Regions from separate parts of the Homo sapiens genome. Here all the other regions are linked to region 1. Evidence: fine-mapped expression QTL. A gene starts in region 1. Each other region holds a variant in brackets. All regions are shown on one strand. Distances are between the middles of the regions.

Region 1 (7,825 bases):
TTGAGGACAGAGACCACTTCGAATATTTCTTTTGTGTTCCACAGCACCGTGGACAGCAGAAGCCTCTAGGGATAATTGAAAAGTTGTTTTTGATTGCTGGTCAATTGGTTTCTGGTCCCAGTTATCAGTTCCCATAACTCCCCTCCTCTGCCTCATAACTATGATCAATAAAATTACTGTAACACACTTTCTCAGGCTTGGAACAGAGAATTCCCAAGAAGACAATCTGGAGTCTACCAATCTAGAATAGTAGGCTGGGTAGGGTGGGATGTCTGTGTCCATGTGCACACAGGGAAGTGAGATTTAGGGAATCTAGCTTAACCAATTGGTCAAGGGATTGAAACACCAAAATGATCAGAAGAGGACAAACAAGGAACCAAAATGACAGAATAATTTGAAACATGCCTAATTAGAAGCACAGTATGCCAGAATTTTGACAAAGCAATTTCCAGTTTGGTCCTTGTGCATACAAAATTTTCCATCAGAAAGAAAGGGGTAACCCTGGTGCTAGGGACTTTGAAAATTTGTTTGAAGCTTTCTCAGTTGTTCAATAGAATACATTTATAATCTATCCAGCCTATCAGGTATAGTGCTATATTCCACAGAGATGGGAAATCAGAAGGGAGAAGGTTTAGAAACATGGCTTTTCTAAGCTTAAGAATCTCCACCAACGCATATGCATATGTTCATTGCAGCACTGTTCACAATAGCAAAGACATGGAATCAACCTAAATGCCCATCAATGGCAGACTAGATAAAGAAAATGTGGTACATGTACATCATGGAATACTATGCAGCCATAAAAAAGAATAAGATCATGCCCTTTGCAGCAACATGGATGGAGGTGGAGGCTGTTATCTTAAGCAAACTAACGCAGGAACAAAAAACCAAATACTTCATGTTCTCACTTATAAGTGAGAGTTAAACAATGAAAACACATGGACACAAAGAGAGGAATAACAAACACCGGAGCCTACTTGAGGGTGGAAGGTGGGAGGACAGAGAAAATCAGAAAAAATACCTATCAGGTACTATGCTTATTACCAAGGTGATGAAATAATCTGTATACGAAACCCCTGTGACACACAGTTTATCTATATAACCCATACATGTACCCCTGAACCTAAAATAAAAATTAACAACAAAAAATAAAAATAAAAAGAAGAAGAAGAATCCCCAGCAAGAGCCTAGGCTAGAGACCAGAAGTGTGGTGACAGTCAGTGAGCCAAGCATAGAGGGCCACACAGGGTGGATGTAGTCCTTGACCTACCCCCTCTTGCAACATGTTACAGGTCATCAGTCATTTCCAGCCTCATGCACCAATGACTTAACCTTTCTCTGATACTAAGTGCACATCAGACTTAGCTCAGCCACTGGGCTGCCCAAGGAGGAGGGAGAATATCCCCAACATAGGAATCCCACAGGAGACTGACCCCAGTCTGCTATTTATTCTGTGATTTGAGCCAGGGTTAGATAATGTGTGCCACACCTTGTGTTTTGAAAGGCCCTGGGAAAAGTAACACATTGGACTATTATTGGCCATTAACACTGTGTGAATTTATTATCAGAAATAAGCAAGCCTCCAGGAACTGAGCTCTGCTACGGGTGCCTGGAACAGAAAATGAACAGGACCTAGTGTTTGGATGATAGGAAAGGGGAAAGAGGAGTGGGCACCAAAAGGTAAAAGTGGAGTCCAGAAAGGGAAGGTGGGAAGGCTCACACTTCAAGATTTTTCCCTCAGAGCTAAGAAAATGCAGACTTTTGCCCCAGTTGGGAGGCAAGGGGGGTCAGCTGGGTTTTTGATTGACTGGTCAATTTGTTTCTAGTCCCAGTTATGAATTCCCATATCTCCCCTCCTCTGCCTCATAATGAGTATTTCTGAATATCACTTAGCCCCCAGAACCACCTTTTCCCTAGATTCCACCTCTTTAGAATCCATGCTTTTGGGTGCTGGGCTGTGTGTGTATGAGAGAGAGAGAGAGAAGAAAGAAAATAGAATCCATGTCTCGGAAGAGGAAGGAGGGAAGGAAGGAGGAAGAAAGAAAAGGAAAGAAGGCTTAGACCTGGGAAGCAGAATAGAATGACAGGGCTCCCTCTGATTTCCCCAGACCCTGGCACCAGCTCCTGTCCTCCAGTTTTTTCCTCTGCACATCAACTAGAGAATGAACATATGAGCCAATCAAGTCTTGACTTCCAAAGCCACAAGTCTCCCCCGCAAAGCACCCCACCCCCTTCCCTAGAGATGACCTCCAGGGCAAGGTAACAGGGTTAGGAAACAGATGGATGTGCAGAGACCCTCCAGAGCTAACCTGACCCCTGACCCCCACCAGTTCATGTCCTCTAATCCAACTTTCCAGAAGGGAGAGCAGATGCATGGGGCCCCGGTAACTTACTGGACTCCTTGGGACAAAGATTCCAGACAAAACTGTTTCAGACATGTGGGGAGATGGGGAGCTACACACAGAAGCTGGTGGAAGCCACAGGTACAGGGAGACGGGGAATCCCTGGCCATCAGAGAAACAGGGCCACAGGTGGTGGAAGATAAGGGTGGTCAGTGCCGGTTCTAGGGAGGGACTGTGTAGCCAGGGAGCAGGAGGAGCAATGGACCCGGGACTTGGACGATGGCAGGGGCGCAAAGAGCTAGAAAGACATCTCAGGGCTCTACACCTCACAGCAAGCAGAGACTTAGTGGGTGTGTATGAGAGGGACGCTAACTCACACTTCCAGGAATGAGTAATTCTTATGAATAGCTCCTCCGTTCCCAGAACTGAAGAGGAGGACAAGGGGGAGGTCCGAGGCGCCCACCGCCCTCCCAGCTGGGTCTGCCTCTCAAGTCAGAGGGACCAGCTCCCCACACGCACCAGGCGAGACCGATGTCTTCCGCCCCACTCCTGTCAGTCTGCAGCCGGCGCGGCTCCGGGTCCCCGCCGCCCCTCTGTGCACATCAGGGCCCCGGGCCCCCGACGGCGAGGAGGGGTGCCGACCCAGGGCGGCCGCCGGGAGCCCCGCTGACAGGCACAGGGGAGGGGGAGCCAAGGGAGGGGCCGGGACGCCGGTAGCCGGAGCGGCGCGCTGCAAAGTGAGCCAACACCGCCCATCCCCGCGCTCTGGGAGAAGGCGGTCCGAGGGGACCGCCTCCCACCTCCCCAACACAGACTCCCGCAACTGGGGTGAAGGCGGAGGGGCGCGGAGTTCCCAGCCCCCACGCCCTCCCCAGACGCAGCCAGCACTGCCATAACAACCAGAATCTCGGCAACTCCAGCCCCGACGCCGAGGGGGCACTGCCCCCCAACACGCACGCGGCAGCAACAGCCCTCCTTCCCCAAACTTGTCCGAGACGCCGCGTCCGAGGCAGTAGCCTTCAGCCCTGGCCCCCCGCGCCCTGCCCGGCTTACCTGTCCGGAAAAAGGCGTCCACGTCCGAGTCTGCTGCTCCTCCTTCCTCCGCTGCTCCCTCAGGGGGGTTCATGACTGTGGGAGGGCGTCCGCGGGCAGCCGGGAGCCGAAGAAGCCTGGGGCCGAGGGCTGCTCGGCGCCCGGTGGGCGGAGGGCGCGGGGCGCAGCTGCTGCGGCCGCAGAGCTGGCGGCCGCGGAGCTTCGAGGGCGGGCGTTGGGCGGCGGGGCTGGGGCAGAGGACGCTGAGCCTCCCTCAGGCGGAGGCGCGCGGCGGGCTGGGGGTGCCTGCCGCCAGCTCCCCCATGGTACCCCTTCCCCAGGGCGCTGGCCGCCTGCTGTCTGGCTGGGGCCGGGGCCCGGGGCCGGGGTGCGGGCTGCCTGGGCGCCCGCTGTCCCCCAGCAGCGGCAGCTGGCTCTCCTGCTCGCCCGTCTGCCTGTCTCTATTGTTCAGCCCTGCTCCGCTCTCTCCTCTTTATTTTTCCTCCTCCCTCCCACCCTCCCTGTCTCCCTACCTCCTCCCTCCCTCGCTCACTCGCTCACTCGCTACCTCCCTCCTTCGCTCGCTCGCTCTCTAGCTCCCCCTCTGGCTCCCGCCGCCGCCGCCGCCGCAGCAGCCGCCTCCCCAGCTCCTCCCCCGGCTCCCGCTCCCTCAGTCCCGGCCAACAATGACCCCGGGAGCGCCGAGCTGAATTGAAGCTCCGGCCGGGGCCGAGGGCTCGCTGCGGGCCCCCGGCGGCGCCTACGCCCCCAGTCCCAGCGGCCCCGCGCCGGCCTCCCGGGGAGCGGAGCCCGAGTCCCGAGCTATTGTTCGAGGCTGTGCTAGGCCGGCTTCCTGAGCTCCGCAGGAAAAGCCCGGGCCAGGGAGGGGGCGGGGCCGCCGGGCGAGCCCGGGGCTGCAGGGCACACGCCAGGCTTGTCCAGGGGGCTCTGCGGCCCGGGCGCTGCGCGCTCAGCTTCTCCGCTCGCGCCGCCGGTGCTCCTCCCGGCCCCGCGGCCACCTCCTCCGTCCACTCCACTCCCAGGTGTGTGAGGGGACCACCAGGCTGCCCGCCCGCCTTCTCTGGATCTTCAGATCGGTCTCCAAGCTGGACTGACCTGTCCCTAGAGGCCGGCCTTTCTTCCCCTCCTTCCTGACGAGCTCTCTTCTGTCTCCCTGCCCTCCTGAGCCTCTCACATTTTCCTCACCAGCTCGCCACAGTTTCTCTCCTTTTTATCTTTTCTCGTCCTTTTCCCCTTTTCAGCGCCCCTTTAAACATCTCCGCCTGTCTCTGTGACTCTTTGTCCAGTTTAATGCTCCTGTGATGTCTCCCTGCCTATCTCTCCCTCCCTCCGTCACTCTCTTGTCCCTCGTTTGTCTCTGTCCTGCCTCCGTACTTGGCCCGTATCTCCGCGCTCCTCTTGGACAGCTGTCAAAACTCTCTAATCCCTGGGGCCTTCTCGGTTTTGTTCTCCCTCATGTGAATGGAGAGATCCAGTTGGCCAGGAGGAAGGAGGTGTTACAGCAAGCTGAATTTCAATTAAAGTGGGGAGAGGGGCTGGGGAGGAATGGGGATGGCTGCAAAAAAGAAAACAGATGCTGTATGGGGTAATTAATGCGGTGATTGTATTGTGCCCATCAGTTTTTAAGCAATAATTAAACAATAATTAGCCAGTAGTGTGTTTATGGTTCTAGTGACTACAGAGCCCACCAAACAGAGGGTCTTTAAGACCTGAGTACTTAATAAGGTCTGCTGAGCGCTGTTCGCTGTTGCCTCATCCAGACAGATGGAGAAGTGGTGGCCTGACCTAATGTGTTAAAACACGCCTAATAGGAAAACCAGGTACTGGTCTGAAGTTAATGACTGCAACCCATCAGACAGAATCTCCTGGATCTGTTTGTCTCTAGTAACCTGTTTGGTTCCACCTCTCTCTGGGGGCCAAGGCAACTGGGGCCTATGCAGATCCACCAACTGTGTAAACTTGTAGCAAATAAAATGAATTAAATTAGTTTTTAGTGAACACTTTCTGGCTCCCTGTACGCATCACGTTCTTCACTGACACAAACAGTCTAATTTTTTTTCACCCATTAAAAAAAAGTACCTGTTTCCAACCTTGGATACACCTATCAGACCTGTCTCCAACCTTGAGTACATCTATCAGACCTCTGTAGTGACTCTGACATCACAAGTTCACTGCCCTGAGATCTAATTCATCTGGCCCTAGTATCTTGAACTGGCTTAAGATGCCCCTTTGCCTATGCCTTTTCTGACAATGAAAATACTTCTCATTTGTCTTTTCAAAATCTTCCTTCCCCTTAATCCTTTGCCTAACCCCTGGTCTGCTCCCCTACCCCCGCACACACATATGTGATGGCAGAGCTGCTATTAATTAATTGCCACCATTGTGCAGCTAAAGAACCAGTGGCCTGGCAAGGCATTAGCTCATCACAATTCAGAAGAAACATTACATGTTTAGAGGAAGGGTCATATCAAAATCTCAAGATATAGACAAGAAAGGGGGAACACCTTATGTAATGACACAAACTTTTTTTGAGAGGAAATTTGGCAACTTCTATTAAAATGTTAAGTGTTCATGGCTATATTAATATCAAAGAAGACTTCAAAGCAAAGAATATTACCAGGGATAAAGAGGAACATTTCAATTCATCAAGCAGACGTAACAATCCTAAGAGTGTTTGCACCTAATAAGATAGCTTCAAAGTACATGAAGCAAAACTGATAGGATTGCAAGGAGAAATATAAAAATTTATAATTATAGTCAGATAATTTAATATCTGTAAAATGCAGTAATTAATAGAATAAGGAGACAGATCATCAGTAAAGATATGGAAGACTTGAACAATGTTATCAACCAACCTAACCTAACTGACATTTATAGAATATTCCACTCCATAACAGCAGATACACATTTTTTCAAATGCACAGGTAGCATTTGTCAAGATAAACCATACACTAAGCCATAAAACAAATCTCAATAAATTTAAAAGGATTAAAATCATGCAAAGAGGTACATAAATTATACCTAAGTTGGTTTTTAAAAAAAAATCAGAGTATGTTCTCTGACCACAATAGAATTAAACTAGAAATCAATAACAAAAAGAATCTAGAAAAACCTCCCAAATATTTGGAAAGTAAATAACACACTTCTAAATAACACATGAGCTACTAAGAATTCAAAGGATGGGCTGGGCACCATGGCTCATGCCTATAATTCTAACACTTTGTGAGGCTGAGGCCAGGGGATCACCTGAGGCCAGGAGTTCAAGACCAGACTGACCAACAGGGCAAAACCCATCTCTACTAAAAATACAAAAATTAGCCGGACATGGTAGCGTTTGCCTGCAATCCCAGCTACTCTGGTGGCTGAGGCATGAGAATCACTTGAACCCAGGAAGCAGAGGTTGCAGTGAGCCAAGATTGTGCCACTGCACTTTAGCCTGGGTGACACAGTGAGACTTTGTCCCCTGCCACCCCCACCAAAAAAAGAATTAAAAGGGGGATATTAGAAAGAATCTCAAAGTGAATAAAAATGAAAACACATTACATAAAAATCTGTGGGATGCAGCTAAGGCAGTCTAAATCTGTGGGATGCAGCTGAAGCAGAAAGACATTTATAGTGCTAAATACCTATTTTGAAAATAAAGATCTCCCATCAATAAGCTCCTATTCTACTGTAAGAGCAAACGAAATCAAAGTGGAAGAACAGAAATAAAAAAGATCAGAGCAGAAGGCAATAAAATAGCAGGAAAACAAAAGAAAAAAATCAATGAAACTAAAGTGGGTTCTTTAAGATCAATAAAATAAAAAAACCTCCACCCAGACTGATCAGAAAATAAGAGAAAAATCTCAAATTACTGCTAGCAGGAATGACAGAGGTAACATCACTACAAATTCTATAAATGTAAAAATAATAATAAGGGAATATTATGAACAACTTTATGCCAACAAATTTGACAACTTTCATAAGATGGACACAAACTACTAAAGTTCACTCAAGGAGAAATTGCTAACTTAAATAGCTATTTATCTACTATAGAAATTAAATTTGTAGCTTAAAAGCTTTCCCCACACACACCCACACACAAAACAACTCAAGATTCACATGGGTTTTTTGGTAAATTTATGAAACATTTAAGGAAGAAATAATATCAATTCCACAAAAACTCTTCCAGAAAAGTGAAAAGGAGGAAATATTTCCCAACTACTTCTATGAGGCCAGCATTACTCTGATGCCAAAACTAAACAAAGGCCATATAAGAAAAAAAATGTAGACTACTTCCTTAGGAATATTTATTAGGAATAAAATTTTTAATAAAATTTTAGCAAATAAAATCTACAATATATAAAAAGGATAATACATCATAACCAAGTGGGTTTATCCCACATATACAAGGTTGGTTTCACATTTGGAAAACTATTCAATGTAACTTA
Region 2 (7,825 bases), 550 kb before region 1:
AGATAAAAATGCCTTTGGATGCCCTGTGAATCCCCATACACTTACCCAAAGCCCATGACATCAGAGACAAGCAGGAAGGACTACCCAAGTAAAGAAAGAATCATAGAAACCAATCCCTGCACCTCCCCAGTGAAGTGATTCAGTTTGGGTAAGTCCCACCTCCTTCCTCTCTTTACCTCTGAGATGTTCAGGTGGCTGGACTATCTCAGTCTAAATGTGAAGACACAATGGCACGTGGGCTTGGGATGCAAGGACAATGATACAGCAATAAACAAGTATAAATAAATCCCATGCACACTGTGGAGGATGGTAATCAGGAAAAGCTTTCAAAAGGGGACTTTTGTCCACATACCTAAAGCTAATGAAAGTTGACTAGAAACTTAAGTCTCTTGGTTGGGCACGGTGACTCACACCTGTAATCCCAGTACTTTGGGAGGCCGAGGGGAGTGGATCACTTGAGGTCAGGAGTTCAAGACCAGCCTAGACAAAATGGTGAAACCCCGTCTCTACTGAAAATACAAAAAATTAGCCGGGCATGGTGGTGCACGCCTGTAGTCCCAGCTATTCAGGAGGCTGACGCATGAGAATTGCTTGAACCTGGGAGGCAGAGGTTGCAGTGAGCCAAGATTGTCCCACTGCACTCCAGCCTGGGCGACAGAGCGAGACTCCATCTCAAAACAAAATTAAGTCTCTAAAACTGGCTTCTACCTAGAAAGGTCAGAAAAATCTCTGGGCTCCTTGATCACAAATTCCAGTGCAATACATAACTTAGCAATTTCCAGGTGATTTGAAATCTTTTCTGAACTGACCCACTTTTTCAGGCTTGAAGGACAGTCTAGCTAGTCAAAGCTATCCCAAAACTAACTCCCCACAGAGTGTGACATCAATGATTTATCACCCCTTAGACACATGCATGCCATTATCTCACTTTTGGTTGTTTTTCACCTTCAAAAAGGCAGTTATAAATGCATTTGCCTTCTTTCTTCCTTCTTACCCGATATCTATTTCCTTTCTATCCTTGGTTTTCAGTTTTCCTGCCTTTCAACACCAGTTTCAAGATAGGGAAGAAAAATCATCTTTCATCAAACCTGCTTTCTGTACTCATACTCAATAGAACCAAAAAGGCTAAGTGCAGTGGTTCACGCCTGTAATCCCAGCATTTTGGGAGGCTGAGGCAGTAGGATCACTTGAGCCCAGAAGTTTGAGACCAGCCTGGCAACATAGTGAGACCTTGTCTCTACAAAAAATAAAAATATTAGCCTGGGGTAGTGGCATGCACCTATGGTCCCAGCCACTTGGGAGGCTGAGGTGGGAGCCCAGGAGATCCTGGTTGTGGTGAACCATGATCAAACCACTACACTCCAGCCTGGGCAACAGAGTGAGACCCTGTATCAAAAAAAAAAAAAAAAAAAAAAAAAGTGGAGGGTGGGGGTGGAGGGAAAAATACAAGATAGTCGCTTTCCATACTCTTCCAAATCAAAAGATAAGTTCAGTGAAATTCATCCATATTTTCCTCAAATGTGATATTTAAAGACCACACAGGTACTTTATCTAAATCCTTGACTCTGACCCTAGTGATGACAATTACAACCACTCAGAATTCACCAGAGAAATCCCAATGTAGCTCACTTAGCTTCAAGTCAAAAATAGCCAAAACATTCCACTTCCTCTTGGTTCTTTTACTTTTGTCCTTTTCCTCAGACTTTAGAAGGAGGTATCCTTTAAATCCTGCATGACTGGAAGTCAGATGGTCAAGTCCCCTTGCCTTGGGAACCACAGCAGTGGGCTCTGAGTCATTGCTTCAGAGTCAAGCTACTCAAGCCGCAGGAGACAGCCAAGTTCTCCCTGAGAGAGAAGGGATAGAGACCAAACAACCGGCCGCCTTTATCTACAAGGTGGAGTGTGGAGGTTGCCTTTCCATTGTATTTTCCCTAAGACCAGAGGAACTGGTTCAACTGAAAAGGGAGGCAGTCAGTCCCCTGCAGTGCACACCCTCCACTTGAGAGACAGCCTCAAGACTCTCCCCTCAGCCCTTTTGGGTGTTGCAATTGGGCAAGCCTCTTCCCAAAGAGTCCACGGACTCTGGGCCATGCACTCAGGCTCAATACAGACCTTATCTTTTCAATCTGTTTTCAAATTGATGCCTACAGGCTGAGTGGAGACTGTTTTCGGTTAGAGTGAGCCTGAGGGAGCCTCAGGGCATGCCCAACACCTCAGACACGACCCCCAGCCTAGCCACAGGCAGGAGTTTTCTTTGGAGAGTGGCTAACTCACCTCCCCCACCATCGTCCTCTGATGAGCCCGTTTTTCATCTTCACACATTTCAGATCTAGGGGAGTGAGGAGTAAAGCAGGAGAAGGCCCCGGGCACCCACCTTGCCACCCTTCTTTTCCCTTTTAAACTGGTCTCATTGCTTGGACCTCTGACTCCCTCAGTCTTCATCTGAGGGTCGCTAGCCTTTTCAGCTCCCGCTCCTACGATAGCCACTCGCACGCCTCCTCTCCTAGCCACGGAGCCAGCAGCCACTGCCTTCACAGGCCCTAGGCAGGAGGCACTTACCAGGCCCTGGAGCCAGCTCCCCAGCCCTCCCCTGCATCACAGCGAGAGTGAAAGTCGGGCAATTCCTCAACAAAGCAAGGGCCAGCAAGACGCCCAGAGAGTTACCCTGAAGGGCAGCCAGGGCTGTCACACATCTGGACTCAAGGAGGCAGCTGTGGGGACTTCAGATAAGCACCACCCCAGCCCCCACATTCTGTCTGACAGGAAACGGACTCCCAAGAAATCCTGCAGAGAAACTCTTTGCGGGGAAAGCAGGGCAGCCTTCGAGCGAACCCACCCACTCAGATTCCCCTTGGCCATTTCCTGCTTCCTCCGCGCTTTATTCCCCCTTTCCCTCAATTCCCAGCCTTGGTTTTGAATGTTTCTGAATCAGACTTAGAGGGTCCCTGGCCCCTCACATTCCTTCTTCATCTGAATTCTGGTTTCTAGAGCTCAAAACCACACGGTTCCAGGCTGCTCTAATTAAATACAGAGATTGAGACCATCTGATGCTAAGATTATGACCTTAATGACGCGCAGGAAAAGTCATTCAGATTTAATTAGTTTTGGTAACCTTATATCTGCTCAGGATAGAAAATTTCTCAGGGCTATGTTGTGTGTTTGTGGCACAGAGGATGCTGAAAGGTGGCTTGGATGAAGTTTATTCACCAGTAACTCAGCCAGAAAGTTCCATTAGGATTTTGCATAGCAGATGGGATGGGAGACTGGGTGGGGTATTGTAAATGGGGGTGGAGGCCAGAGGCCCAAAAGGTGAAACTTTTTAAAAGGGCAAATGTCAAGTAGGGGGCTACATTCTCATTTCTACCCACACAAAAACAGTCTTCCCCCGCTATCCTAGCGTGTGTTAAAGTGACATGAACAGCCTTAGGAGCATCTGCTTATCCTATTTGGGAAGGTTCTGATTTTTTTTTTCAGAAGAAGCCACACAATTGAGAACCCTCCCTCTGTGATCCTTCTCGCCCTCCTGTTCGCCGGCTGCTTTGGGGGAAATTGGTTGCTTCCTGCAAGTCTCTTCCACGACGTTAAGATTAGCAGAATAATTAAATACAGTCCTAACTGGGCACAGAGAGAGTTGTTAATTAATGAGCCAAGCTCCGGCCCGGAGCTACAAATCCACGCTGGCCTGTGAAAACCCAGGCAGAAAAAAATGTGCTCCAGTCCCACGAGAAAATTGTCACTTGGCAAAAATAGTTCCTGGTGTACAGACAGGTGTCAAACACATTCCTGTAGCCAGGAGTCACACGTTAATCCCGCAGCTGAGATCCATGTGTAAATGAGAGGTGAGGTACTTCTCCGCCACTATAGGGACACACGCGGCTCTGCGTCCCCTTCCCACCCCCGCGTCCGCATCCCACTCCCTAGCAGGCTGGCGCCCTGACATCCAAAGTCGCTGCTAGGTGACTGAGTTCCCAAACAGCAGCTCCGCATCCAAGTCAGAACCTCACCGCCAGCCAGCGAGCGCGCGCGTTCTGTCTGGGAAACTGTGAAACGGATCGCAGCAAACTCTCTCACTTCGCCGCCCTCCTGATCCCCAGCCCCATCCGCCTACCCCAGAGGCCTCCCCAACCCTTCCCTCCCTACCACCCTCCCTCGCGCTGAGCGCGACCAGTCTGGCTAACAGAAGGCACCAAGGCCGCCGACAGCCACTCACCTCTACACGGGAAGCAACAGCAGCACTTAGCAAAGAGCCACCCCAAAGAGGGACCTCGGGTGTAAGCCCTGTCGCCGCCCTTCATGTTGCCCCGCCGCCCCAGCGCTCCCGCATGGCACGGGGCGCCAGCCCGGGGTGAGAGCGCGGCGGGAAGGAAACTTCAGCGCCGCCGCCCGAGAGCCGGCTCCCGCCCTCCCCGCTGTGCTCTCCCCGCACCGCGGCCGCAGCTCTGACTTACTGGGAGCCACTGCCACCTTGGGAAGCGGGGAGGGGCCAGGCGGGGAGGGAGGGCCTAAGGGGCGGAGTTCCAAGGTCCAGCTGTGGGCAGGAGACCTGGCCAGCAGCGGCCGGAGCCTCATGTAACGCTGCCTGTGGCACCAACGCTGTGGGCACGGGGCAAACGGGTGGAGTTTGAGCCCTTGGCACCAAACAGGTAGGTACTCCTTATGTGCAACTTCCTCCCTTCAAAGGCCACCACAATGGGCGTTGGCTTAAAAAA[T/A]ACAACTAGATGGGGCCAAAGAGGTAAGAGAGGGGCAGACTTAGATGCTCCAAGACTCAAGGATGCCCTTTTCTTCCTCGCAGCCTCACCCGTTCCCTCCCCACAGCCTCCTCTGTATTGAAAACACCGTCCCCAACCCTTTCCTTTCCTTCCGTGTAATGCTGATTACTAATAATGATAACAGTGCCTCATATTGATCAGCTCTCCAACTGTAATGACGTGAAAACACACTCTGGGTTTGGAATCATACAACCAACCTTCAAAGCTCAGTTTTGCCACCTGCTAGCTGTTTGAACTTAGGCAAGTCACTTCACCTTTTATCTTCAGTTTCCCCATTTAAAAAAAAAATGTAAAAGAATTCCTATATTCCACGGTTGTAGATTTTCTTTAAAAAATTTTCTTTAATAGAGGCAGGGTCTCGGGTCTTGCTATGTTGCCCCAGCTAGTCTTGAACTCCTGGGCTCAAGTGATCCTCCTGCCTTAGCCTCCCAAAACATTAGGATTAGAGATGTGAGCCACCACATACAGCCGATGGTAGAATTTAAAAATATCTATGGATGTCTCCCAGAGTTGCTGATTTAGTAGGTAGGAGGTGGGGCCCGAGAATTTGCATTGCTACAAGTTCCCAGGTGATGCTGATGTTGGTATAGGACCACACTGAGACCTACTTGAGATTCAGACTTTTTCCTTGCCTATTTGGCAACTGTCCCCTTTTCTTTTTGTAACAGCCCCTTGACTTGTCTTTGAGGAACCAGTCCTCCTCCCTTCTCAGGCCATGTTTCTGGGCTAACATCCTGTTACAGAGGTGAAGTTTAATATTTCCAGGTGAATGAATGCCTACAGAGAAACTTCGAACATCTTACTTACGGTGCAAGACTTCCATTCACCATCCCCTCGGCCCAATATGCCCAGTAGACCTATCATTCCTTTACTTATATCCCTATCCCTATCTTTTAAATCTTTTTCATGTTTCAAGGCCAAGCTTGCTTTCCACAACCCCCTTGAAGCCCACTTGGACCACATCAGTGGGACCTTTCCATGAACCACTGTATTACTCACAGGGTGTCTCTCCCATTCCTTTGTGTCCAGCTTTAGGGCAAAGGGCCTGCTGGAAACACACAACACTCATAAAGAGGGCCCATTCATCAGAAAAAAGGGAAGTTTGTGGGAGGAATGAAAAACAGAAGCTTGATCACCCAGGTAACCAATGCCTTCCTGGAAGAAACACACTCATGGGACAAGGCTTTTAAAAGTTACCAGGATTTGGGGCTTCCTTTCCCAGTTGGAACCATGCTTAGATTTGTGCTTTATTTATCTATGTGACAGCCAGGCATGGTTGCTCATGCCTGTAATCCCAGCACTTTGAGAGGCCAAGGCAGATCACTTGAGCCCAGGAGTTCAAGACCAGCCTGAACGATGCAGGGAGGCCCTGTCTCTACAAATAATAAAAATAAATGAATAAGTACATAAATGAGCGGTGCTTGGTGGACCATACCTGTGGTCCCAGTTACTTGGCAGGCTGAGGTGGAAGGATCACTTGAGCCTGGGGATGTCAAGCCTGCAGTGACTCATGATTGTGCTGCTGCACTCCAGCCTGGGCAACAGAGTGAGACCCCATCCCCCCCAGCTCAACCCCCCCAAAAAAAATGTGCCAAGGCATCTGCCACATGGTTGGGATACCAGTAAATGATCGAAGCATGACCTAATGAGTAATAATAGCTTACATTTATTGAGCATTTATATGCTAAGCAGTTTCCTCCATGTTCTCCATATACTATCTCATTTATCCTCATAAAAAAACCTTGTAAAGTAGTGTCCTGTTTTACCTTTGAAGAAACTGAATTAATAAACTATGATGAGGCTTTAATGGTTTAATTCTAAAGAAAAGCTCTAAAAAGCTTCACCCCTTTGGAACAGTAGAACATAAAGTCAAAAATCTACCCTCTAGTTCTGCTACTGCCATCTCCCTGATGGTTTCTCTTGGCAAGGTTTACATAAGAACGTCACTGTCAAGCAGGAAATGAATCTCTGGTGCTCTTTCTAACACATACAAAAACAGAGAAATTACAGTTCAAATTGCTCATGTTGGCTGGGCGCAGTGGCTCACGCTTGTAATCCCAGCACTTTGGGAGGCCAAGGTGGGCGGATCACCTGAGGTCAGGACTTCAAGACTAGCCTGGCCAACATGGTGAAACCCCATCTCTACTAAAAATACAAAAATTAACTGGGCATGGTGATGCATGTCTGTAATCCCCACTATTCGGGAGGCTGAGGCAGGAGAATTGCTTGAACCCGGAAGGCGGAGGTTGCAGTGAGCGGAGATCGCACCATTGCACTCCAGCCTGGGCAACAGAGTGAGACTCTGTCTCAAAAAAAAAAAAAAAAAAAATAGCTCATGTTGTCTGCACCCAAGATTCCTGATTCACTGACCATCCTGATAATTGGTCAGTCTCATTTTGCCAGACTGAATTACTGCAGGATCCTTAATCCTCACATAGTTATCCTGGGTTCCAGTTCTGACCCACAACAACCAGCACTATTATTTAGTTCTCTCTTCCATGTCACCAAAGACAATACCTATTTTGTTTTTCTTGCAAGCCCAGACCAAAACTGTCTGTAAAAATTAACTTTATTTGCTTGTGATCCATAGTATGGATGCTATGGTCCAAGGTTCAATATTTGGTTTACCCACCCAATCCCTCTCTTTTTACACTTTGGGGGCATTATGATGGGAATTCAAAGATGCTTCAAAATTTCATGGGGAATAACCAGTTTGTTTTTTACTCAAATCTTCCCTCTTGGTTTTTGTGTTCAGATAACACTGGATCACTTTTTTGTCACAATTCTTTGCAAGAGACTAATGACATCTCATCCTGCTGAAACTGGCTTGAGTTACATGTTTGAGAAAGACCCAACTCTTACTTTAGAAATCAAATACCAGTAGACCCTAAAGTAGTCCACTATAGGCAAAATGGATCCACTGGGCATGTTTCCACCGATACTTTTTTTTTTTTTTGAGCAGAGTCTCACTCTGTCACCCAGGCTAGAGCGCAGTGGCACGATCTCGGCTCACTGCAACCTCTGCCTCCCGGGTTCAAGCAATTCTCCTGCATCAG
Region 3 (7,825 bases), 620 kb before region 1:
GTCCACTCTCAGAGAGTGTGGGGCTTTCTGTTCTAGAGGGAGGGTGTTGGTCCTCAGCACAGGGGCTCCATGTCAGTCACTGAGCATATGTTGGGGGAATATTACTCAGCCCCTCCTTTCCCTACCTTCCTGTTTTTGTTCATCAATTCCCTTGCCTTCTCAGATTTTCTTTCTTCTCTCTGTTGCTTCCTGGCTGCCCAGGCAACAGCTTAGCCTGGCTTGTGAAACACTAGAGGTTTTCAACTAAAATAATCTGTCAGAATGGTCTGTAACCTCCCTGGCTTAAAATAATCCCATAGTGACATTGTCTCAAAGGACTTCACTTGGAAGTAGTCTGCAGGGTTTGGACAGGGAGGTGAAAATGGAATACTTTATATGTTTGACTCAAATAATACTTGCCTTCACGAATAAAATTGCATACTGAGGCTTTTGTGCAACTTACATCTAATCTCTGAAGGATATTAAGGGGTTACCCTTTCCCACTATGTGTCACCAGGAGCCAAAAGAACACCAGTGGGGCTAAGCTCTAGTGCACCCCAGGACAGATTTCTTTAGTTCTAGGAAACACTGTGTTAACACTTGCCATTCCTCAAGCAGGTACAAAGCTGTTTACAAGAGCCTCTTACTGTCTGAGAGGGGTCCACCTGGATCCACGGTCCTCCTGAGACAATCTTTTCCCCTCTAGAGAAAGATATCCAATATGGTCCCTAAGAACAGCAAGCATTACAAGCAGAAAACTCACCTCAATATCTGAACACTCCAAACCAGCCTTCTCACTGTATCTCAGGAAGTCCTAACAAGTAGGGGAAGCAGGCAAGAGTGTGGGAAGGGGTAAAATTAGTAAAATAGCTGGGAAAAAACTTATCATAAAAATACAATAACACCCTGGAGACTTTCCTTCCCAGCAGAAGTGGCAATGGTGTAGAGTAGCTGAGAAATGAAATTATGAGTCATGTAAGATGTAATAACATAGAGAGAACTCCCAGAATATTCAAATTTCTTTTCTTTCTTTCTTTCCTTTTTTTTTTTTTTTTTGAGACATAGTCTCACTCTGTTGCCCAGGCTGGAGTGCAGTGGTGCAATTTTGGCTCACCGTAACCTGTGCCTCCTAGGTTCAAGCGATTCTCCTGCCTCAGCCTCCTGAGTAGTTGGGATTACAGGCAAGTGCCACCACACTCAGCTAATTTTTGTATTTTCGGTAGAGATGTGTTTCACCATGTTGGCCAGGTTGGTCTCAAACTCCTGACCTCAGGTGATCCACCTGCCTCAGTCTCCCAAAGTTCTGGGATTACAGGCGTGAGTGACTGCACCCAGCCTCAAAATTTCAAAGCTATGGGAGAAGGAAGAGTGAGAGGGAGGGAAGACAAAGGAAAGGGGGATTATGACAAGAAAGGAGAGAAAGGAAAGTTAAGTCTCTCTTTTCTATTTAGCCTCCTAGTTCCATAAGATGAATCAAGTTAAGCCATTGTTTAAAATATAATTAGGCCGGGCACAGTGGCTCATGTCTGTAATCTCAACACTTTGGGAGGCCAAGGTGGGAGGGCTGCTTGAGGCCAGGAGTTTGAGACCAGCCTGAGCAACATAGTGAGACCGTGTCTCTACAAAAAAAATAAAAAATTAGCCAGGCATGATGACATGCATCTGTTGTCCTAGCTACTTGGGAGGCTGAGAAGGGAGAATCGCTTGAGCTCAGGCATTTGAGGCTGCAGTGAGCTATGACTGTGTCACTGCACTGCAGCCTGGGTGACAGAGTGAGACCCTGCCTCAAATATATACATACATATTATACTTTATAATATATATTGATTATATATAAAATATATTGATTTTATATAATATATTGATTTTATATATATATAAAATCAAATTTTAGGTATTACTAATCTAATATTTCTAAAGCCTTGCCTTTCCCTTTCTTTCTCCCTTGTAGTTCACTCTGATATCATATTCTTCTTATTTTTTAAAGGTATCAAGTCAATGATTGAGACAAAGTAAGAATGTGAATTGAAAAAATAAAATCAAGTAACAACCCACCTTAAGGGTAGGAAGAACAGCCATGCAGTTTATTTGGGAGCAAAGCTGACAGAGTAACCAGCAGTCAGATAAAAGTTCCCACGTCCCTACCACCCCTCCCACAGTTCACAGTCCTTTGGGACAGTGTGGTGGAGACAGAACCGCTAGCTCTACCCCTAGCTCAGAACCTGCTCTGAGCCTGATGGATCCTTCTCCAGCCCTCACCCAGGCTCCCAGCTTCTTACCTTGAGGAGCAACTGGTATTTTGTTATTCTCTGAATGGGCTTGATGAGGAAGTCACTCAGTGTCAGCCTCTGATTTATCTCCTGTTTTACCTCCTGAAACACAGGCAGCAATATTAGAAGAAAAAGGAACTGAAGAACTGGGGTGCTTTGAATAAGGGTTCAAAGGCATGGAAGACAGGTCTGCATGTTTTCCAATGAAGTTGAAGAATCTTTAAGTAATGTGAGAGGTAAAATTGCCTAGAGGACTGTTCACTTGTTATGAACAACACATAACACACATCACCACTGGCTTCCTGCCTTCCTCCCATGCTTTTACAGTGAGTACTTCCACACCTTGGTCTTCATCCCAGTCCTGGGAGAAAAGCTGGAGGGGCCTTATTCTCTCCACCACTTCAGGGCAAAGGCAGGGAAAAGGGGCTTCTTCTAGGACACACAAGCCTATGGAGCCAGGCCCTAAACTTAGATCTCCAAACACTCAGCTGAGTGCTTTTTCTAAGTGATGATGCTGCCTTTCTCCCAGCAAAATAAATCCTTCTGGGCTAGACCAAGCAGACTAGGAAGTGGCTGCAAACCCTTCAACCAACAGAAGACTCCTTAGTAAGTGGTCCCTGGGGGACTGGTGGGTACAGTCTGCTCCAGGGTCACTTAAGAAGAACTGGAGCTTCTCAAACCATCTCTGTGTTCAGGCTTATTCTGCAAATGGGGGATTCTCAAATCAGAACCCAGACTGGGCCACCTCAGCTCCTCTCAAGTGAAGGTGCTCATGAGAATTTAGCTAAGAAGCTGCTTTCTCTGTTGAGGCAGCTATTCCTGCCATGAATGGGTCAACGGTGCTGTGTGGGGGTCACATATGGATGGATGACGTCTGGTATTTCTGAAAGTGGCTGTTTTGGCCTGAGTTTTCCTCCCACCCCAGTTCAGCAAAGCCTGCACAGCTTACCTCAAAGTAGGCGTCATACTCAGCAACGATGTACTCTGAGCGCGGCTTATTCTGACAATACCACACGTAGATGTGCAGCTTCCGCTCCTGAAAGAGCAGAGAGAGACATGTGGACAGTCAGGCATCTTGTGTCTTTTGTTCAATCTCAGAGTGCCGTGCTGGCCTCCACGTGGACAAAGGACAAAGGCGCACTTGGGGACGCACCAAGGCAGCTGAATATCAAGGATATAAATGTGGTGGGCAAGAGCCACTTTCCAAATCGCCAAGGTGGTCAAAAAAACAAAAAAACTTAGAGAGGGCTGAGAAAGAAGGTCACTCAAGGAAGAGCAGAAGAGAAGAAATTTTATTTACTTTTTTTTCTGAGACAGGGTCTTGCTCTGTCACCCAGGCTGGAGTGCAGGGTGGGGCCATCATGGCTCACTGCAGTCTTGACCTCCCAGGCTCAAGCGATCCTCCTGCCTCCGCCCCCCCAAGTGGCTAGGACTATAGGCATGTGCCACCAGCCTTGGTTAATTTTTAAATTCTTCGTAGAGATGGGGGCCTCACTATGTTGCCCAGGCTGGTCTCAATTCCTGGGGTCAAGCCACCCTCCCACCTTGGCCTCCTAAAGTGTTGGAATTACAGGTGTGAGCCACTGTGCCTGGCCAGGATTTTAAAATGAATATAAATGAGCCTAGTGAAGGAGTTGGGGAGGAGGTGATGGGAGACACT[C/T]ACGTGCTTAATAAAGAGCTGTGCCAATCTGTCTTGCTCCTGGATACACTTTTCCAGTTCCGCCAGGAAAAAACTAAAAGGAGAAAGGGGATAAGAGAAGGAAGCCACATTATTCAGAACTGTATTATTTCTCAATAATAAGATGAATTACAGAAGACTCTCCCCTAAGCCCTACTCCTTGAGTCAGATGCAGGAAGAGGACTCAAGTCCTGGATTCCCAGGACACTGGATCCTCGGGGCAGCATTAACACTTACTCCTTATGCCAGTCATAAATCTGATGAATATTTCCAAACACGATTTTGTCCTTTCCTCGCATATCCTCAGGGACACCCTTTTCTTCTATTCTCTTCATGAAGCCCTGCAGCAGCAAAGGCAATGGTTAGTAGCATATTTTCACAGGAAAGCTTTCTGGGCCATGCCACACACCACAGCACCCCTGCAAGCCCACACTCTCTGCGTGAGTTTGCGGACAAATGCTTCTGTGGTTTCTCACTATTCAACCAGGTCTTTAACCCCTGGTGCAGAGCAATAGAGAAAACTTTTATGAGTTTCAGGATCCCCTTCTTTGTCTCCAGTCCCCTTAAGAAAGCAGAGCACAGAAGAAAACAATAAGCTGTCCCTCTTCCTTCTCCCAATCCAAATTAATCAGGTCTATAAAGGCTCAGAACTAGATACATCTGGCCTAGAAATAAGTCTTAATATGTTAATACTTTATAGTCTATAAAATGTGATCATAGAGAATTTCATTTCTGTTTTAAAATCAGGTTTTGAGGTTGGACAGGTAGCATTATCCCCATCTGACGGACAAGAAAACCCAGGCACCTGGGTGTTGGATGATGACTTGTCCATAATCGCACCACTGATGTCTGAGTTCCCTGCATTTCAGCCTCCCAGTCTTCAGATTCCCTCGTCCTCTACTCCTGGGCTGGACTGCATATGGAAGCTATTGTACCTCTTCCACCCCCCAGCCCCACAAAAAGACAAGAATAACTTTCCGTAAGTTAAAATTCAGGTTTTCTATATGGCTGGTTAATCTGTTTATCCAAGATTCAGAATAAGCAAATACAAAACCCTAAGTCAGCAGATTTCACAGGATGGGAACTCAGGCCAAATGTAAGGAACCAGCAGGCAATGTAGGCTTTAGGCATAGAATTTTTATTTTTTTGTTTTATTTTTACTTTTATTTTTATTTTTTGAGATGGAGTCTTGCTCTGTCGCCCAGGCTGGAGTGCGGTGGCGCGATCTCAGCTCACTGCAAGCTCCGCCTCCCAGGTTCACGCCATTCTCCTGCCTCGGCCTCCTGAGTAGCTGGGACTACAGGCGCCCACCACCACGCCCGGCTAATTTTTTTGTATTTTTAGTAGATACGGGGTTTCACCGTGTTAGCCAGGACGGTCTCGATCTCCTGACCTCGTGATCCACCCGTCTCAGCCTCCCAAAGTGCTGGGATTACAGGCATGAGCCACCGCACCCGGCCGAGAACTTTTAGACTTCATGTTCTTTCAAGATGATTAACAATAGGGCTCTAAGCCATTCAAGTTACCCATTTACTTTCTCAGGCTTTTTTTTTTTCATCCAAGTGTCTAAGTCCCTCTTAAGTGAATCCCTACAGAGCTAGATTTGTTTAATTTACTACCAAGTCGACTCTTAACTGTGGACCTGTCAACCTTGCTCATTGGTGGGTTTTTCTTTTATCTGTCTTTTTGCTAGCTGTAACACTTACCCTTGAAATCTATGGAAATGTATAAGCCCTAAGATCCCACTAAGAATGAACTGTTTTATGCCTATGTGGCTCATAGCTCTGAAGAATATATGTCCACATAGTTAAACATCAAAGAAAAGCTCTTAAGACAATAGCTTGGTCACCTAAAACAAAGTGGAATGAGTTCCACTCTAACCAAGAGGCTCCCCCAAATGCTATAACATTCAGGCCACTACTTCCCTCTAAATATCTTATTTCAAGGGGAAAAGAAAAATATTGCCTACATATTCTACTTATTACCATTTTTATTTTCATTTCTGCAAGTGCTCAGACAGTAAAGTACATGTAACCATCAGATTAAAACACCTTGGCCTAGGTAGGGTCCAACGTGCTCCTGGTTGGGTGACCACAGACCCACCTGGAACCCTCTACTTACCTCCACCACAATGCCCAGATCCTTGACATAGTCTTTCTCTGTCTGTACCAGCTCATTCAGGACAAACCTGAGCAGGAGATTAAGAACAGTGAGTGTTCCTCTTCATTGTTAAGCCAAAAATCTTCACTTAAGTTCACAGAAAAGTTACTTTGGCACCTTTATAACAAGACCCCTTAAAACACCCACACTTATCTCCTGGGAAAGATGCTTACGGATGCTTTCCCTAGAGGAGGCCCTACTGAAGGGCTGAGGACACCAAGGCCAGAAAGGACTTCCCCAGGTGACATACAATAGTCACACGAAAAATGACGCTCAGTACCTAGCATTCTTCTTTCTATTCTTCATGTGTTTCTCCCTCACCTACAACTGAACGATTGTATAGACAGAGGGCAGAAAGATTGACAACCATTTTGGCAAAACTGCGTTCTGAAAGCTTTGAGGCTGGGCAGGGGTTAAGATGAGACTTTTCTTCCTTCATTTCAGCTCCATTCTTCACTTAACAAGAAGAGAAAGACATTTATTTGATTACCAACCTGTAAGTCCTCCAAGACAAGGATAGATATCAAGTGAAGTTTTTAAGATATGGAAGCTGCAATTATTCAGATAGGTATCATGGTAACTGGCCTGGAAAACCCCCAGTCAAGGCCAGAAAGATGGACTGCAGACATTCCAAAATCACACATTTAATGCAGCACTACCTTCTCCAGGATGCAGGATTTAACAATTACAAGGACATTTGCTCTCTTGGTTTCTTTCTTGTTAATTCTTTCTACCATTTACTATGTGCCACTCCCTTCATCTGGGTTTTCCCATGCTTATAATAAGGTAGGTATTGTAAAACCTATTTTATATAAATGAAAATGCAGAGACAGAAAGATTAGGTAACCTGACCATGATTGCAAAGTGAGTAGCAGAGCCAGGATTTGAACCCAGTTGTGCAAGAGTCCAAAGACCATGCTCTTTCCCAGCAGCCCACTGCTTGGTAAACTACTCTGACTGGCTCTTGGGAGTCCTTGAAGCCTCAAACCCAAACACTCTTTCTGTCTTTTGTCCAGACACTAAAGAGCTTTACATAAAATGCTAAAGTTGTGCACAGGGGCAGGGTGGTGCTGTGCAACCTACTGGAGTCAAACTCTTCCAATCTGATTGGAATGAGTTTTGCCTGGGACCACACAATTGCATTTTGGGCACAAGTAGCAGAAATGATAAAGTTCTGAGATGTCAAAGTGGGACCCCAGCACAAGGGTGGTAACCATTTTTAACCCAGGAAGCAATTCATCTGAAACTCTTGCTCCGTATAGCCCCAGAAGCCACCACATTCCTGGAGCCTGGGGCCTCTGGGCAATGGGGAGGAAGCAGAGGAACACATGCTTCTTTATCAGTGCACCCAGCACTTCCAACAGCTCCCTCTCCAGCACAGACAATCATGTGTTTTAGGCCACAGGAAGGAACTGGCAAGGCCAAATGAAAGCATTTAAATATATCTTTACCATGGCCCAAGTTACCGCCTGGTAGAAAGTGGCAAAAGAAAACCCACAGGAAAGTTAGAGTGGGAATATGGGGCTGGGAGGGCCCTCTGGAGATGAAGTCCAGCTCTCTGTCTCCAGGCGATATTTTTATCCTAAGCTATTTGCTGACAGATGAGGGCTATCTTTGGCTTCTCAGCCTTTAGAGAAGGGAACTGTATTAGGTGCTGCTAGTGGACCTGTCATCTCTTCCCTTGAAGGGTTAATGAAGGAGACCATGACGTATTAAAAGACATTCTGAAAAGTGACAT
Region 4 (7,825 bases), 670 kb before region 1:
TTTATTTAGGTCACCAAGCTTCTTTAAAAATTTGTGTCTTTTACCAAATTTGGGACATTTCCAGTTGTTATTTCTTCAAAAATTTTTTCTGCACCAATCACTTTTTTCTTTCCCTTAGGAGTTCTAATGACATGAATGTCAGACCTTTTGATATTTTTCCATAGGTCCCTGGGGTTACGTCTAATATTTGTAAAACATTTTTTCTCTCTATTCTTCATGTCAGATAATTTATATTTCTTCCTCTTCAATTTCACCAACTCCTCCATCAGCTTTGTTCTGCTATTGAATCCATGCTGTAAATTTAAAAATTTTAGATATTGTATTTTTTGTTATGCAATTTAAATTTAAAAATCATTTCTATTTCTCTGTCAATAACTTCTATCTTTCCATTCATTTCAAGAGTATTCACCTTTACCTTACAGAGGATGGTTGTAATTGCTACTTTAAAGTCTTTGTGTGATAGTTCCAATATTTGGATCATGTCAGAGCTGGCATCTGTTGATTGTTTTCTTCCCGAGAATTTTTTAAGTTTTTTCTGCTTTTTGTAATGTTGAACAAATTTAGATTGTATCCCAAACATTTCAAATGTTATGTTGTGAGACTGATTCTGTTAAAATCCTCTGGAGGAGTTTGATTTTTGGTTTATTTGTATGTTTTGGTCAGCAATCAACTTGGTTAGGTTCAGACTGCAAGTTCTGTCTCACCTTCTGTGGGAGGTGGTTCTATTGTCAGTTCAGTTTTCAGTGTTTACTATGCTTTTAGGTCTGCCCCTTGTGAGCACCACACAAAGATTAGTCTGAGACTAAACAGTCACTGAGCAGTGGTTTACATCATAGTCCAGTTCTCAGAGCCTTGCTATATTTCTTTGGATGTGCCTCATACAAGCACAGCTGGAAGGTGGCCCAGGATTTGAGTCATTTCATATAGAATTAGGAGATCTTCTTCTTTTGCTTTCTCCTGAGATTTCCCCTGCATTCTTTATCTCCCAAGTGCCCCTTTTTGAAGTTGTCTGGCCAGAAAGATGGGATTCCCTCAGAGGTTTAGCTTCCTGCATTGTCATGCAGTTTCACATGACTGCCCTCGGGGTGAAGCAGTGACAGTAAGGAGACACAAAAAAACAATTAAGCATGAATTATTCTGTTCTCTCCAGCTCAAAGGGTTCCCTTTTCTTTGTCCTTTGGCCAGAAATGTGGGGTTTTCTTGGAGTTTTTGCTGTTTGTGCATGCTACATAGTTCTTTGATTTGGCCCACACTTGTATCAAAGCTGGGGAGATAAAGGAGAAAAGAGGAAAGAAGAAAAAAGGTAGGAAGGAAGAAGGGAAGGAAGGAGGGAAGGAAGGAAGGAGGGAAGGAAGGAAGGAAGGAAGGAAGGAAGGAAGGAAGGAAGGAAGGAAGGAAACTGCTATTCTCCTTGTCATTAGCCATTCTTCAAGTTTTTACTTTACTTTCTTTCCTTTTATTTTTTTGAGACAGGCTCTTGCTCTGTTGCCCAGGCTGGAATGCAGTGGTGCGATCTCGACCTCCCAGGCTCAAGCAATCCTCCCACCTCAGCTTCCCAAGTAGCTGGGACTACAGGTGTGCACCACCATGCCTAGCTAGTTTTTTCTTTTATTTTTTGTAGAGATGAAGTCTCGCCATGTTGCCCAGGCTGGTCTTGGACTCCTGGGCTCAAGTGATCCTCCTGCCTCAGCCTCCCAAAGTGCTGGGATTACAGGCGTGAGCCACCACACCCAGCCCAAGTCTTTTGTCTTTCCACTCTCATCTCTATTATTTAATTTGATACCCAGGTATTGCTTTTTGTATCTTGTCCAGGGATTCTGGTTGTAATCAGTGGGAGATAAAGGCTACAGTGGGCTTACTCTATCTTGGGTGGCATTGGGAGTTGGCTCATTTTGAAAGTTCAGGAATAAAAACGTGTTTGGTGGCAGGGCACGGTGGCTCACACCTGTAATCCCAGCACTTTGGGAGGCTGAGGCAGGCGGATCACCTGAGGTCAAGAGTTTGAGATCAGCCTGGCCAACATGGAGAAACCCCATCTTTACTAAAAATACAAAAATTAGCCGGGCATGGTGGCAGGCACCTGTAATTCCAGCTGCTCGGGAGGCTGAGGCAGGAGAATCGCTTGAACCTGGGAGGTAGATGTTGCAGTGAGCCAAGACTGCATCACTGCACTCCAGCCTGGGAGACAGAGCGAGACTCTGTCTCAAAAAAAAAAAAGAAAAAGAAAAAAGATGTTTAGAAGCTCTGAGCTTGTGGGTGAAGCCTGTCACCTTTTACTTTACTACAGAGTGATTTGACAAGACTGCTCAGTTGGGAAAGCTCCACAATCAGTATCTTTAAGTCTTTCCTTTTGGGCTGGTTAGAGTTCCCAGAGAAAGAGCCCTCTGCTTTCTGCCTAGAGGGTGAAACCCTGGCTGTCAACCTCTGGAGGTCCAGTGGATAAGAGAGCTGGGGTTCTGAGTACCCAGCATGCATACATTCTCATATTGTCCCTGTTTGCAGAATGGCTCCACTGCCTTCAACTGTGCCTGGTGTCCCCAAGGGCAGGGATGCTCCATTTTTCCCTTTCCAGAAAATAAAACTCCAGGCCAGGCACGGTGGATTATGCCTGCAATCCCAGCACTTTGGGAGGCCAAGGCGGGAGGACTGCTTGAAACTGGGAATTCGAGACCAACCTGGGCAACATAGGGAGACCTTGTCTCTATGAAAAATTAAAAAGTTAGCTGGGCATAATGGTGTGTGTCTGTAGTCCCAGCTACTTGGGAGGCTAAGAGGATCACTTGAGCCCAGGAGGTCAAGGATGCAGTGAACCATGATTGAGCCACTGCAGTCCAGCCTAGGTGACAGAGTGAGACCCTGTCCTAAAACAACAACGACAACAAAAGAAACAAAGAAATAAGAAAGAGAGAGAGAGAAAGAGGGAGGAAGGAAGGGAGGGAGGGAAGGAAGGAAGGAAGGAAGGAAGGAAGGGAGGAAGGAAGGAAGGAAGGGAGGGACCAGTCTTTTCTTGGATGAAGAAAGACAATCACACAGATACTTGAAGCTGGGGAGCAGATTTGGAGCCAGCTTATCCCTTGGGAATGCTGACTGGTTGCCTGTATAGAATCTAAATTGTAGCAGGACCAGGCCTCCAGGTAAGGATGGCAGGCTGAACACAGACATCAGTTTTCACTCCCTTCTGAGACTCAACTTCTCAAAAAATTTCAGCCAATCCTTTCAATTTTAGCATCCTCCTTTTACCTACTTCCAGAGGTACGTGATGCTCCTAATACCTGAGCTTTTGGGTAATTCTGCTGCAAAAATTATACTGGCCCTCATTTGACCCCATGACTGACTGACTCACTCAGGTCTTGAAGGTCATTTATCATTCTTTCATCTGTTTTTCTGTAGAAGAAAAACATGAATTTCTGTGAAAAACATCTGTATTTCTGTGAAAATAATACTTTATTTTTGTCTCTTCTTCCAATGTCCTCATTCTTATATGCCTACTTAAAAAAATAAAATAAAATAAAATAAACCCTGCATTATAGTTTCAATGAAGTTTAGGAAGAAGTGAAGATAGATGCCTGTGTTCAACCTGCCATCTGACCTGGAGGCCTGGTACTGCTACCTTTTTATATAGCAATGGGTATAGGCAATGGGTCAGCATTTCCAGTGACAATCCCCTGCCTTCTCTATACTGCATTGTTGCCTGTATAGTTCATTCCTGGTTAAACACGCCATACTCAAGTGCCCTTTCCTTCTATGGATGTGCTGTAGGAGAGAATCTTCCTGCACTGTGGCTTTTTATAGTATTTAATTACCAGAGCACTCCTTTTAACAGAATAGTCACAAAGGCCCAGAATTCCAGATTTAGGTGTGATGAAGCAAGTCGATTGACTTCTACAGCCCTGGCACAGATATCTTTCCTGTGTCTCACATTAACATCTCCATGTATTATTTGGGCCTGGTGGGGTGGCTCACGCCTGTAATCCCAGTACTTTGGGAGGCCAAGGTGGGTGGATTGCTTGAGCTCAGGAGTTTGAGATTACCCTGGGCAACATGGTGAAATACCGTATCTACAAAAAAAATGCAAAAATTAGCTGGCTGTGATGGCTCACGCCTGTAGTCCCAGCTACTTGGGAGGTTGAGGTGGGAGGATCACTTGAGCCTGGAAGGTCGAAACTGCAGTGAGCAGTGATCATGCCACTGCACTCAAGCCTGGGCAACATAGTGAGTCCCTGTCTCAAAGAAAAAAGAAAAAAGAAAAAAAAAGAATTTCCATGTATTATTTCCATTCTGTTAATGTACAACATTTTGAAAAGATCTTCTGAAAATATAAGGACTATTCTTAGGAGAGAGGACAAGCTTCAGGCTGTTAGAGACTTTAAAACAAAAACATCGATTACTTTTGAACAGATAAGAAAATTGATCTTCCCTTTGAGAAATATCAAATCAGCCATCTGTTTTAGCTAAAACATGACTTAACCTATGGCTAATAATAGCAAACACATGCCTCCAGGAGGAATTAACTGGGGCATCCGGGTGATGAAACCAATTTCATTTAGAACTAGCTGGGGATTTAATCGGCCCATTATTGGGGGTCATGTTTAGCTTCACAAATTTCA[A/G]TATAATAAAGCAAACTAGATTTCAGTTACTAGAGCTTATTTTGGACAATAATCGATATGATGAGAAACAATATATGCTAGTAAAACAAGACCAGGCTTGGAGTTGGGTAGCCCAGAATTTGAATCCTGGCTCCACACCTCCTAGTTGTGGGGCTTTAAGAAAGTTACTTAACCTCCCTGACCCTGAGTTTCCTTTACTGAAAATATACTTCAGGCTGGGTGAGATGGGTGGCTCACACCTGTAATCCCACACTTTGGGAGACTGAGGCAGGAGGATTGCTTGAGCCCAGGAATTTGAGACCAGCCTGGGCAACATAGTGAGAACTCCATCTCTACAAAACAACAACAAAAGATTCTTTTAAAAGTTTGCCAGGTATGGTGGTGTGCACCTGTAGTCCCAGCTACTTGGAAGACTGATCATCCTCCCCGCAAGCGTGGGAGGATAGCTTCTTAGGAGATTGAGGGTGCAGTGAGCTATGATACTGCCACTGCATTCCAGCCCTGGTGACAGAGACAGACCCTGTCTCAAAAAGAGAAAAAAGAAGACAAAAAGACAATATACTCAGCCTGGTGCAATGGCTCAGGCCTGTAATCTCAGCACTTTGGGAGGCTGAGGTAGGAGGATTGCTTGAGCCCAGGAGTTCAAGACCAGCCTGGGCAACATAGCAATAACCGATCTCTATCTTTTTTTTTTAAATCTGCTCAAACAGTATCTCATAGTGTTGTATGGATTAAATTAAATAATGTTTGTGTATTAAGCAGTAGAGCTCAAACAAACAAAAATAACATTTGTATATAGTATCTGCTTAGTATCTAGAATACTATAGATACTGAGATCATCATTATCATCATCACCATTACATAAATTTCCTTGGCTTTTTTTCTTCTGTTTGGCTACACAAAGAAGACAGGAAAGGAGAGGTAGAGTTTGTTTTTGATGAAAGGTGCTGTAACGGAAGGCAGTGAATGATATTGTGACTCCTGCCTAAGACACAGGCAGAAGGACCATTTTGGTTTCCTCTACAACGTCGGTCACAACCACGTCAGTTAAAAAATGTTATGCTTCACTGAGAAATGCTAATCAGAGCTAGAAATGATGTCAATGGCCCATCGTTAGTGGGTATTCTTTTATTTATACATCCGGGGGGAAGGATCTTACGGGTGGGCAACCTGTAAGATCTACCTACATTCCCTCACACAGACCACCTGGAGACCAAAGCATGCATAGGGATGAATGCCTTTTGTTTCTTTCCCATAGACTATTTTGTGGGCCAGGTGATAGATTTTTAATTTTTCTGTTAAAAGTCATATTTTTATCTGTTTTATTTTTGAGGACACACTAAATGTTCTCTAACCAAAATACTGCAAGTGAGAAAGAGAGAGAAAGAGAAAGGTATGGAGTGTATGTGTGTGGCAGGGGGAGGATTGGGATTAGAAATACTCATAAAATAATTAATGTGCTTGGTACACGGGCAATATAGAGATGTATATCCAACAATTAGTGATTGCACAGTCTTCCCAGGAACATGTGGAAATTTTTACAAAAAGTAACCATGTACTACTCATAAAGCAAGTCCAAACAAAAACCAAGGAATCAGTACCATATAGATTTTCTGACCACAATGCAAATTAAGTTAGAAATCAGTAATAAAAAGATACTTTAAAAAAACTCATACCTTTAAAAATCTCATATATATTAAAACATGTTTCCATTATAACCAGGTCAAAGAAAAATTCACAGTTGAAGACAACTACATATAACTTATAAGGAAAATACTGCATATCAAAACTCAGGACCTATAGCTAAAATTGTACTTTGAAGAAAATTTTGGGCCTTAATTTCTTATATTAGAAAAGAAGAAAGGTTGACAACTGATGAATGAAGCATCCAACTTAAGAAGTTAGAAAAAGAACAGTAGAAAATACAAACGAATATTTTAGTTTTTTTCTTGCTATGGAGAGAATTGCATTTGTAAAAGAAATAAACAATGACAACAACAAAAAGTTACTGTTCTGATGTGATGTTGCTAGGTGTTCATGAATGAAGGAATATAAAACTGTGTCATTACCTTCCAATTTCATTCAGCTCAGTGTAAGCTGAGTCAAAATTTTCCTTCCAAGAAATGGTGGCACCATCAGCAGCAGCATCTTCGGAAGAAAGAGAATCCATTTACAATATCGAGGATGTCATATAAGAATAAAGAAAAAATTAACAGAAAAGCTCCAGAGTAACCCCAAAGCAATTCTCATGACCAAATATGGAGTCTGACTCAGTGGGAAAATGCCATGATTCTCTGGAATGTTATTTTAAAAAATCATCCAAGGGGAAACTGACATGACAGAGTCAGCTTCTCTCTCCCATCTACTTAAACAAAGGGAAAACGCAGTACAATCAGAAATATGACTTATGGATATTTTATAAGATAAATTTAGGAGAAAAATTTAAAAGGGATAAAAGAACACTTTGAAGACCTAGAAAAGCTCGTGAAAATCAGGGGTGTAAGGAGGATGCAGAGAGAGAAGGGAAAAGTTACAAGGTCAAGAAAGGAGAAAAGGAAAAGACATTTTAGAAATTTCTCTTTCTAACCTGAGCCACATAGCAAGACCCTGTCTCTACAAAAAAATCAAAAACTAGCCAGGTATGGTGGTGTACACTTGTAGTCCCAGCTACTCAGGAGGCTGAGGTTGGAGGATCACTTGAGCTCAGGAGGTCGAGGCTGCAATGAGCTATGATCGCGCCACTGCACTCCAGCCTGGGAGACAGAGCGAGACCCTGTCTCCAAAAAAAAAAAAAAAAGAAAGAAAGAAAGAAAAAGAAAAAATTATCTTCTTATCCCGCTCTTCTCAGGCATTAATGAGCTTATCTGGTATACTGAAGGATTTAGCTTAACCCACAATATATGCCTGAGTAGATTCTTTGGCAGTATTACCTTGTGTGATGTGTCAATTCCTTGGCAATGATTCACGCACGCGTGCACACACACACGCACACAGAGCAAGCACAGCAATACGCATTTGTGTCATCTGTTGGGGACCAAGGTTCACAAATAGCAAAACACACAGCATCATCCGGGGCTGGAGCAAGTGAGCAGCCTGGGAGGAGAGGGGTCACATGAGCAGCTTGGCTCAGCTGACCCTGGAGCCAGTTCCCTCAGGTTTCCCAGAGCACAGCCTGGCTGAGACTGAAGGCGGCTTATCCATCTTGAATTCTGAGGAAA

Which allele goes with the higher level. Alleles are on the strand shown, and positions count from the first base shown. SD is a standard deviation of normalised expression in the study named. Not every link is listed here.
As copies of T replace C in region 3, the expression in regulatory T cells of the gene that starts at base 3,840 in region 1 goes down (moderate effect, 0.72 SD a copy in Schmiedel 2018).

Evidence for each region. PIP is the estimated chance that this variant, and not a neighbour inherited with it, causes the effect.
Region 2: its variant is fine-mapped to the expression of KALRN in esophagus mucosa (GTEx, PIP above 0.99).
Region 3: its variant is fine-mapped to the expression of KALRN in regulatory T cells (Schmiedel 2018, PIP 0.92).
Region 4: its variant is fine-mapped to the expression of KALRN in whole blood (TOPMed, PIP above 0.99).

The regions. Positions count from the first base shown.
Region 1 is chr3:124,029,384-124,037,208 of GRCh38, reverse strand. It overlaps KALRN (kalirin RhoGEF kinase), which reads right to left and starts at 3,840. Exons shown (of 60, transcript NM_001388419.1): 1 at 3,396-3,840. The coding sequence starts at 3,468. RefSeq lists a silencer at 3,865-4,324.
Region 2 is chr3:124,581,292-124,589,116 of GRCh38, reverse strand. All of the region lies in intron 34 of KALRN (kalirin RhoGEF kinase), which reads right to left. LOC105374076 (a long non-coding RNA gene) reads left to right here and starts at 4,558. Exons shown (of 4, transcript XR_001740872.2): 1 at 4,558-4,643. RefSeq lists a silencer at 4,155-4,334. The variant T/A (reference allele first, on the strand shown) is at 4,710.
Region 3 is chr3:124,653,891-124,661,715 of GRCh38, reverse strand. KALRN (kalirin RhoGEF kinase) reads right to left here. Exons shown (of 60, transcript NM_001388419.1): 39 at 6,049-6,115; 40 at 4,165-4,268; 41 at 3,913-3,982; 42 at 3,199-3,285; 43 at 2,259-2,351; 44 at 743-793. Among named protein-coding and RNA genes, the nearest start is that of UMPS, 73 kb to the left of the region's middle. The variant C/T (reference allele first, on the strand shown) is at 3,910.
Region 4 is chr3:124,700,968-124,708,792 of GRCh38, reverse strand. It overlaps KALRN (kalirin RhoGEF kinase), which reads right to left. Exons shown (of 60, transcript NM_001388419.1): 57 at 6,677-6,755. LOC124906276 (a long non-coding RNA gene) reads left to right here and starts at 7,770. Exons shown (of 3, transcript XR_007096039.1): 1 at 7,770-7,825. The variant A/G (reference allele first, on the strand shown) is at 4,608.